Linked DNA regions of Homo sapiens: region 1 is linked to region 2. The links come from fine-mapping of genetic effects on plasma protein levels. A gene starts in region 2. The other region holds a variant in brackets. All regions are shown on one strand. Distances are between the middles of the regions.

Region 1 (5,392 bases), 79 kb after region 2:
ATAATGTGATTACGGAGTTGGGAGTCAAGAAATACATATTATAAAAGGAAAAGAATTCTTAAATCATTCCAAGACAAGGAGACATCAGCAAAAACAGTGAGATAATTTATGTTTCCAAAATGACATAGAACATCAGAATTCATTAAAGTGTTTTATGAACTATAGGACACATCTCTTAGCCCTTTAGTTCCAGGCATTCCTTAATCTTTCTTATTAGCTTTAGTTGTAAGTTTCTTTGGGTTATGGACCCTTTTGAGAAGCTGATTGAATGCACATGTCATCTCCTCAGAAAAATGCATATATGCTTATGAATGTAATGATTATGAAATAACTTCAGGGATTTCATGGATCTCCTGAGAGCCCAACTATAAAGAAACAGGTTAAAAATCTCTGGGTTAGAGGAGTCTTAGTGGAATTCCTTAGTGATTTGTGTCATCCCTGTGCTTTCTAGGATTTCTCAAGGCAAGAAACATACCCTCTCTCCAACTCCATCACACTCAATGGATATAGGAAGATCTAGGATTACCCAGACCTGAGGCACTCTTTATGAATCTCAGTCTAAGAGCATCTTTTTGACAATGAAAGGATAAAACAGACTGGAAATTTTCTATATTTCCTTACACCACTTGGTAACTCACAACATTAAAAGGATTCTGCGCACAAGATTATCATTAATTATAGTAATAGCTTGATTGAACAAATTAAGTACCTTGATAATTGTAAACGACATTCAGCATTTCTTGATGCATGGCAATCCCTGATACCTACTAAACAGAAGCCTCCACTGTACTGGACAAGGTATTGTACAAGGTGCTCGGGTACAAAAGTGAGTAAGAGGAAGCCCTTATTTATGTTCTTGTGGAAAATGCAGCAAGTCTCATATCACTATATAATGTGGTAGAGGCAAAATGGATGTATGCACAAGAGGCTAGAAAAGATGCATTTTGATCTTCTTTTTCTGCATTCGTTCATGTTATTTCCTCTGCCTGGAGTCCTCTTTTTCATCCTTGACTGTCAATGTTTTACTCACCCTTAAAGATCCTTCTTTATGCTACCACCTTCATGAAGCCTTTCTTTTTGTTCCTCTCATTTGGAGTTAGACTTTTCTTTCTCTGAGATGCTTTTGGAATTCATGACTTTGTTATTTATTTTATTCTACCTCACCTGATGCCATTGTTATTTGATTACTGTTTTGAGATATTAAATTTCAAGGAAGATTATATGTTTTGATATTTTCTTTAGCTCTCAGCTTGTATGTGATAGAACAATAAATATGGGTTGAATTGAATTGACTTGTTTGCCTTTATAAATTTACAAAAGTATTTAAAATTGTCAACCAGTCCCCAGAGGAAACCGGACTTACGCTTGGAGGCCAGAAGTAGAGCAACTTCTCTATGGAGTAGTTTAGTAGGTGCCCGAAAAACAGCCACTGAATTAAACATATCTGAAATTCTACTAAATAGATCAAACTATATAGGTTTTTACTAATCTTTTAAAGTTTTGCCAGAGGGGGTATCAGGAAACTATGTTCAGACTTCTTGGCAGATTGAATTGACCTTTGTCATAAGTGATAAAGTTCAGTGTACAATGTCATTACAAATGTGGCTATATTATACCGAATTTACTCATGAAATAGGGTTAAGCTTGCAAGAGTGTGGCAACTTTGTATTCTGTCCGTGTAGACATCTTTCTTTCTTTCTCTTTTTTTGAGACAATGTCTCCTTCTGTCTTCCAGGGTGGAGTGCAGTGTCGCTATCCTGGCTCTCCTGGCTCACTGCAGCCTGGACTTCCCCAGCTCAGGTGATTCTCCCACCTCAGCCTCCCAAGTAGCTGGACTACAGGTGCGCACCACCACATCTGGCTAATTTTCTGTAGAGACGGGTTTCATGTTGTTGCCCAGGCTGGTCTTGAACTTCTGGGTTTAAGCAATCCTCCCGCCTCAGCCTCCCAAAGTGTTGGGATTACAGGCATGAGCCACTGCACCTGGCCTATGTAGAAATATTTCAACTTAACAATAGAATTACACACTTATGGAATTAAAAAAAAAAAGCTTGGGTGTGATATTTAAAATAGGAAAGAACACCCTGCAAATGGGCAACAGATGAGGATGCTGAAGGGAAGGTAAGAGATACAGTACTAGTGTGAGGAATTAATTAATGATTTCAGTGTTTGGACGACAATATAACGCTTTAGGTAAGGGTAAGGAAGGTGCTGGGAATTTATGTTCTTTGAGTTGATACTGTCAATTGGGCAGTTACTTTCAGTTTTGTAGACACAATCGAGAAAATGTGTAGTTTCAAAGTCAAATGGAAGGTCAGTATGTATTTTGTGGTGTCATAAGAAGTTTCTGTGATTTCAAAGTTGGATGCCGAGTCAATGTATAGTTTGGTGCCATCATAGGGAGGACCCTTTGTTTCAAAGTTGCTGTTGTATATGACAGCTTCTGGGATGTTGTAGGATAATGTGGCTTGATTTATGATTGTAGCAGATGATAGCATGGGAGTTGTAGTTAAAACTGAAGTTGCAGATGGGTGGTAGAAGTTGCTTTAGAAGTAGTGATAGCTGGGGTAGTTATACTGGTTTGGGTTTGAGAGTGAGAGCTTGAAAATAAAAATATTGAATCTAGATGTGGGTTTGTATAGAGGGATATAAAAGGAAAAATTTCACTTTTATTAGATGAATTTGTCCAGGTCTTTTGTTGATTTGTGGATTTGGATAAAATTTGATATGAGCAGACTTTTTT[TA/A]AAGGTGACTTTGGGTAAGATTGGGATTTATTTTTAAAAAAATGAATAGCAGATTTTGGGGAATATTTTGATAGAGGAGATTTTGATTGGCTACAGGTTTCATATGATGTTCTGGAGAGCAGGCTCCTGACTGAACTGCTGTTTTAAGAGGAGCTTTGGACAGGACACTTCCTTGCTTTCCAGCTGTACTTAGATGGTGATACAAAAAGTCAATCCCTGATGAAATAACTGCTTTGGAATCATTTTAGATGGGCTTGTTACAGGTAGTTAGGCATAAGTAGGGCAGAAAAGGGCTCTCCCCCACCCACAAGGAATGTTGGGTGACGGTTTGGCAATGATAACATTGCATCTCTAAAGGTTATAAATTGGTAGCCAGTGCCAGGGAGAGGTCATTTCCTGATGGTCCACACCTGTTGCATTAAAGTGTTAACTGAATGTAGATGCCAGGGAGAAGCAACTTCCTGGGCATGCACATTAACAGACAAAATGGCAGAGTATGACCTTCTGGGGGCACACTACCAGAAAAGGGAAGAAAACCTCAGATGGTCATGGGTACAACTTCCTAAACACACCGTACATGCTCACCTCCCAAGGGTAAGGAGGGCACTGTACATGCAGGCAGCTCACCCTAAGGAAAGAATCATGAGAAAGGGTCCAGCCTAAAAAGTCCTAGGATCAAGGTAAAACACTGGACTTGACCTTCAGGTGTTCATTTGGGTCTCTTTCAAGTGAACTTTCCTTTCTTTCCTGTTATAAAACCTTTTCAAATAAACTTCCACTCCTGCTGTGAAACTTTCATCGGTCTCTTTTTCTGTCTTATGCCTCTCAGTCGAATTATTTCTTCTGAGGAGGCAAGAATTGAGTTGTGGCAGACCTGTACGGATTCACTGCCAGTAACCTGGATAACTTCCACCAGTAACAAGCTGGCTTTTGGCTTTTAAAAATTTTTTTGTCTCCCAGGCTGGAGTGCAGTGGCATGATCATAGCTCACTGCAGCCTCAAACTCCTTAGCTAAAGCATTACTCCCACCTGAGCCTCCCAAGAAGCTGGGACTACAAACATGCACCACCATGCCTGGCTAATTAAAAAATTTTTTTTTGTGGTGATGAAGGTCTCACTATGTCACCTAAAACTCCTGGCCTCAAGTGATCTTCCTTCATCAGCCTCCTAAAGCATTAGAATTATAGGCGTGAGCCACTGCATTGGGCTGGCTCTTTGCTTATTTGTTATTCTTGAGTGATTTTGTGTAGATCCAGAATGTAACTAAACAGCTGTTTTTGGACCAGCTTTTGAAGGGGAAGCATTCTGCTAAGTTAAATATGAGTTTGTGCTATTTCTGGACGTGTTTTGGATGGTGCAGCTCTTTGTATATCGGCTTGTTTCAGTGAGTTTCTTTGCAGGGGCTGGTTGCTGAATAGCTTTTTGGACAAAAGAATTATTTGCAGATCACCTTGTCTTAAAATAATTTGTGTGGAGCAGTTCCTCCTTATCCTTGGTTTTGCTTTCCATGGTTCACTCATCCATGGTCAACCATGGTCTGAAAATACTAAATAAAAAAATCCAGAAACAGACAAATCATAAGCTTTAAATTGAATGCTACTCTGAGTAGCCTGATGAAATCTTGCACCGTCCAGCTTTGCCCGGCAGGAGATGTGAATCATCCCTTTGTCTGGCATATCCACTCTGTATACGCTACTTCCCCTATATAATGTAATTGTATAATATAGAAAAAAAGATAGTGCATATAGGGTTTGATAGTATCTGTGGTTTCAGGCATCCACTGGTGGTCTTGGAATGTATCTTCTGAAGACAAGCAGGGATGACTGTATAGCCCTATCCTGCCCAAACAGCTGATTATGGATGAGCTTTGGGCAAGGGAGCTTTTTCCTGTTAAGGTGATTTCAGATGACTTTGTGTGGAGTAAAATCTTGAATAATAGCTGTTTTTGGATGAGTTTTGGATGGGGCGGTTCTTTTTTGATTAGCTCATCTCCAGTGACTTCGTATAGAGCCATATCTTGGATGAATAACTGTTTCTGAATGAATTTAATATGAAGCTATTCTTTGCTGATCAGCTGATTTTGGAAGAAGCTGAATTTGATTAGGGTTATGTTGAGATGACATTGTTCTGCAAACAGGCAAATCAGACTGTGCTCTTTGTCTGTCCTGGCCTTTGTTTGTTGAATATTACTGAATAGATAAGAGAGATGATGGATAAGCATCAAAACCCATCACTGAATCTTAGGAGAGAATCAAGCAGATAAGCTGATGGTAGTGTTTTCATTTGACTCTCATTTTACTGCGAGGGCTAAACTAGCTCTCATTTGTCTCTATAATTTAATTGTATGATTTTCTTGATTGTAGACCCTTGGCTTAAGGACTAAGATACTCCAAACAGCTCCCTAATTTTGTTTAAAAATCACCAGATGTCAAGGAGGTGCTTAAGCGTCAATTGTTGGCTTCTTAATTGGCTGTCCAGTCTAGGTAGATTATGTTAATAAGTTTGAGAACTTGTAGATGTAAGGTGGGGAGAAATTGCTTGTCTTGGGGCTTGCCTTAGTGGTTAGCTTCACAGTTTGTCCCCTTATCCTAAAGTCCAATTGCATTCTATACCTCTAACTAATTAATTACTCAAATAAATATTTATTC
Region 2 (5,392 bases):
TCTTGCGTGATGGAACAGAGACTATTTTTATTTGTGGAATTAAGGTTTTCATCATTATAATCAGTTTTCAACCTCTTTCTCCATTTCCATTCTCTTTCTCTAAAACACTTTAAGAAGACCAAGTAGCTAACCTTTTCTTTCAAGGAATTAAAATACTCTAAAGTTCATTTGAGGCCAACTGTGAGCTACTGGAGACAAGAGATCATGTCTTATTTACTTTCATTTTTCCATGTCTTATTTACTGGATGCATGGCAGCTGCTCAACATATTTGCTAAATGCATATAGCAGCCAAATAAAGTTTTTGTGATAACAGAATTGCATGCTGTTGGCTGGAGTAGTTCAGTGTTCAAAAGATTGTGTTTGTATGAGATCATTTCAATATATACTAGAATGGATCAGGTGTGGGACTGTAATACACAATTAGCCCCATCACTATGATATGTTTTGATTTATGAAACTTCAGCTCTCAGTCACACAATTTCATGTTTACAAGGTAAATTTGCTAGTTAATTACTAGCTTTAAATGGAATTATCTAGCTGAGTTTTGTAACCATAGAAATTTAGAGATAGTTCTTTTTGAAATGAAGAAAATGTATTTTTTTCAAAGAAATTTCCTCTTTCCATTTCAACTTTATAATGATAGCAATAAGTTGATAATAAAATTTCGCCATGCATTGTGGAGACTATCTAAGCTTTTAACTTTGAATGAGTGGAATAAGATCTAGAAATTGTCTTGGGACTATTTTAAATAACTTTTTAGTAGAAATATCATACTTCACTTACTGCTTTTTTTTTTTTTTTTTAAATGGAGTCTCACTCCGTCACCCAGGCTGGAGTGTAGTGGCACAATCTTGGCTTACTGCAACCTCCGCCTCCCAGGTTCAAGCAATTCTCCTGCCTCAGCCTCCCAAGTAGCTGGGATTACAGGTGCCCACCACCACGCCTGGCTAATTTTTGTATTTTTAGTAGAGACAGGGTTTAGCCATGTTGGCTAGGCTGGTCTCAAGCTCCTCACCTCAGGTCATCCTCCTGCCTCAACCTCCCAAAGTGCTGGGATTACAGGCGTGAGCCACCGCACCCGGCTATCACTTACCGCTTTTGGATTGCAAGACTGACATCTGAGCAACTATGGCTTTTGACTCAATAGGACTAAACCACTGGATTAAATCAAGTGAGTCTATGCGTGGACTCTCAGTCCATATCCCTTCAGTGTTGTTTGGAGTTCGACAATCAATAACCTTTTCTGGGACACACTCTAAAGACTGACTTACCGGCACTGCAAAACTCATTTCCAGGAGGCATAGGATCAGTATCAGGTCCTTCATTTTGAAAAGTGGAATCTAAAACATAATTAAGTTGGAGAATTAAATCAGATGAATTTTTATTCAGAATGGTTAAAAGACAATTTTTGAAAATGAGCCTGAGTCTCTGCTCTTACAAAAACCACCGGGATAAAGGTTAGAAGAACAAAAACAAAAACTAAATGTTACTAAACAACCGATTTGTATGTAGTAGTTTCTGAAATAAATTAACAAGCAATTAAAAAATATCTAAGCACGTTTTAAATGGATCTACAGCCTAAATAAGTATGTAGGAACAACCTCCATCGATATTCTTTGTGATATATTTCATTTCATAAAGTGAATTATGAGTTTAAAAATCCTTCCCACTAAGTAAAATATTGGTCTATAAGGTATTATTCACAGAAGTTTATACTTTGCTTACCCTTTGGGACACATTTTGAAATGCATGTGAAATGTAATGCAACTAAGTCATTTTATAACAAACCTTTATTTGCAGGAATAGAGGGTACATCATTGCATGTTTAGGTAATCTACGTAACCATGACAAAATTTTTCTTTTCAAATGAGAGTAAATTGGCTATCTTAATTTTCTTTGATGTTAGTGGAAAATATGTCTCAAATTTAGCTTTCCTCTTCCTAAAATGAATTATCTTTTAAAATTTATTCTATAAATTCAAAAAGCTCTTTATTCTTACATGAATAGAGATCTGAATAGCCTAGAAATTTACTCATCTTCTAATATTAAAAAGAATTAGGCACTATAATCAAAAACATTAAAAAAAACACAATCTATAAATAAAAGTCTTTTTTTTTTTCTTAGTTGAATGGGTGTTAGGCATGTCATCTCTGGGACATGCTAATGGATTACAACAAGCAATAATTCAGCTACTGGTGACAAATGAAGATAAATCCTCTTTATAAAAGCTGTCAGGAGATAGGAAAAAAAGAATTTACAGGAAACACATGGAAATCATAAAATCCCATTTTACCTTAGATGCTGACATGCACTGTGCTCTCAGGGCCTGATGATGCCAACCAAGATAGTTCTAAGAAAAGAAGATTAAAATTTTTTTCAGGACTGTGCGTGGGACTTGCTCTGTACTTCTCATTCAGGGAAGATTAGAAACCTTTATTTAAAGTGCCAATCCACCAATCAAAGTGAAGCAAAATGGCGAGGGGTGGCGGGGGGGAGTTGGGGCGGGAATCTCTGCTCCTGCAATTAGTCCACACCCTTTTATTGCGTGCAGGGACATTGGCCCAGTAGGGTCTCATTATTTTTAATTGTACTGCAGCCCCTGTACTTATTCAGAGAACTTGATAGCAGGGAAGGCAGTAAAGGAATAATGGACATAGGCTCTGAAGACAATTATTTTGGTGAGCTGGGGAAAATATATGTAAAATAGGTGCAAAACAAAACCTGTTTTGTGCAGGTTTTATCTGCAGATAAAGCTAGTGACCCAATGCTAGCATTCTTCAGGTTTTCACCCTCCTGTTTGTTGTAGTAAAAGAGACTACTGTCCTTCCCCCCAGCACACACAGAGTTTAAAAGAAAACACTAAAATGTTAGATGGAAAATTAATGTGTGTGATTTCTTCCTTGAATTTCCTAGATATTTTCATATCTGGAGATAATTGATTAGAGATAGCCAAGCTTTTGTAAGAAACTACAGTTGGACCCTTTGCAAGAATCAGGTTTACTTCAGGTAAACGTTTGGTGCATTTTAAAAAAAATCTGTGGGGACGGGGACGTAAATCAGAACATTCTCTATGAACCAAATCAATGGGCACAAGTGTCAGTTCACTCTTCAGATAGACACATTCCCAGGCATTAGTATCAAGCCAGGTTAATAAGACATATTTCGATCACTTAAAAGGTTAACGTCAACACAGATTGGTTTTTCTCCGTGAACAGATAATATCTTGGATGTGGATTGAATATTAGCTGCTTTTGTTACTTCTCTGCCCATCCTTGTCTTTCCAAAGTTGTGATTTCAGATATGGTAGGGATAAGCATTTAAGATTAGTTCTGAAGAAGGGATGAGTCAGTACACTCTTTAGGGAAGTAGGGATCTTGTCAATTACAGGGAACATTGAGGAAGCTGGTATTTTGAGAGAAAGCTGTATCCATACCCAAATGTAGGCCTAACAGCTTCAAATAATGTTATCTTAGAAGCTGCTCCTGAAAACCTCTGTGTTCCACTGATACCAGAATTATCTTTAGGATGCAAAGAAATGAAGAATGTGAATGTGTTTTGCAAACAGCAAAATGTTATTGAAATGAAAAGTATTATTTTTCATGCTGTCTCTGGTGCTTGATGCAGTCCCTTAATCTCTTTTGAGCCCCAGTTCCTTCTTCTGTTATGTAAGGATAATAATTAATGACCACAAGCTAGTCTTTTTTTTTTTTGAGACGGAGTCTCGCTGTGTTGCCCAGGCTGGAGTGCAGTGGTGTGATCTCAGCTCACTACAACCTCCGCCTCCTGGGTTCAGGCGACTCTACTGCCTCAGCCTCCTGAGCAGCTACGATTACAGGCCTGCGCCACCATGCCCGGCTAACTTTTTTTGTATTTTTAGTAGAGACAGGGTTTCCCCATGTTGGCCAGGTTGGTCTGAAACTACCGACCTCAGGTGATCCTCCTGTGTTGGCATCCCAAAGTGCTGGGATTACAGGCGTGAGCCACCACGCCCAGCCTGAGCTTGTCTTAAAGATTGGTGAGATGGTGAAGATGCAGCAGCTGCCATTTATTGGGTGCTGAATGAATGAGTTGATTGTCCTTTTGGTAGGAGAAACTACATGAAATATGAGACCACAAGAACTGTGTGTGTGTGTGTGTGTGTGTGTGTGTGTGTGTGTGTGCTGGAGGAGGAGGAGTGCTGGCAGCTAGGTTCATAAGCTCCAAGGAGGTAGAGGAGGGACCTGATGGAGGACATTTTCTCTGTGGAAGTTGATGCTGAATCCATAGGAACGAGCTTCCTAGTTGGCTAAAAAACTGGCAAATAGTGTGTATGTGTGTGTCTTGTAAAGTTTATAAGCGTGATCATGACACACTAATAATGATGTTTTGGTAGGATTCTTATGTTCTGCTTTGCTTTTGAGCCAAATATCCAATATATCATACACACTGTTGCTTCTTCCTTTTTTAAATGTCACACTCCATTCTGGCTTACTGACTTCCAGATGTTTATCTGGTAGTTTATTTCTCCTCCAATATCCTGCACACCAACACTAGACTTATCTTCCTAAAATACTGGTTTTGGCATTTCACTGCCCCACTCAAAAACTATGTAAGGATCTCTAAGGCTGTCATAAAGTTCACCCTCTGTAACTAGACAGTCAATTGAACATTTCAGTTCCTCTTTCCAATCTTGTTTCCCACTTTGCATGAGACAGTGTGTATTCATATTGTAATAATGATTGTAATCAATTGGAGTTGGTTTCATTTTTTCAGCTAATAAACAGTTTTTTGTCAGATTTTATGGGATGTATGTTACTGGGAAAGTTGGTAAATGTAATACTAATATATCCTACAAAAAATTTTCTATTACAATGAAATCTGGAAATTAGTATGAATGTATGAATGAGTTTCTGACAGTGATTATAGATATAAGGAAATTACCATAGCTGATGGAAACCATGTTATGTTGGCCAAGACCATACCTGTATGAAGAAGAATCAGAGAGTCAGTTATAAGAAAATACTTGTGTCTGGAGTACAGCAAAATAAAAAAAAATCTCAAAGTGACAAAAGATGTGAGACACATGAAGAGACATAGGCCATAGAAAAAGTTACAATGAAAAATTTAGAGCAACAAGATCTGGCAGAATATGTTAGTAAAGTGGTTGAGAGCACAGCTGTTTAAATCCCCTCTGTAATACTCACTGGTCATATGACATTGAATGAGCCACTATATAATCTTCATGTAGTTTTTTTTTTTAAAGTTTTTTGAGACGGAGTCTCACTCTGTCATCCAGGCTGGAATGCAGTGGCACGATCTTGGCTCACTGCAACCTCCGCTTCCCAGGTTCCTGCAATTCTCATGCCTCAGCCTCCTGAGTAGCTGGGACTAAGGGCACGCGCCGCCATACCC

Alleles and levels. Alleles are on the strand shown, and positions count from the first base shown. The strength of an association depends on the size of the effect and on how common the allele is.
For the plasma level of the protein whose gene starts at base 2,412 in region 2, A is the high allele of the variant in region 1 and TA is the other (weak association).

What was found. PIP is the chance, under the fine-mapping model, that this variant and not a neighbour inherited with it causes the effect. Protein levels are from antibody-based Olink assays in UK Biobank. Linkage for the fine-mapping came from a reference panel and not from the study's own genotypes, which makes the PIPs less certain.
Region 1: its variant is fine-mapped to the plasma level of the AMBN protein (UK Biobank, PIP 0.98).

What each region holds. Positions count from the first base shown.
Region 1 is chr4:70,510,566-70,515,957 of GRCh38, reverse strand. No RefSeq gene overlaps it. Among named protein-coding and RNA genes, the nearest start is that of AMTN, 5.3 kb to the left of the region's middle. The variant TA/A (reference allele first, on the strand shown) is at 2,744.
Region 2 is chr4:70,589,276-70,594,667 of GRCh38, reverse strand. AMBN (ameloblastin) reads right to left here and starts at 2,412. Exons shown (of 13, transcript NM_016519.6): 1 at 2,295-2,412; 2 at 1,273-1,341. The coding sequence starts at 2,309.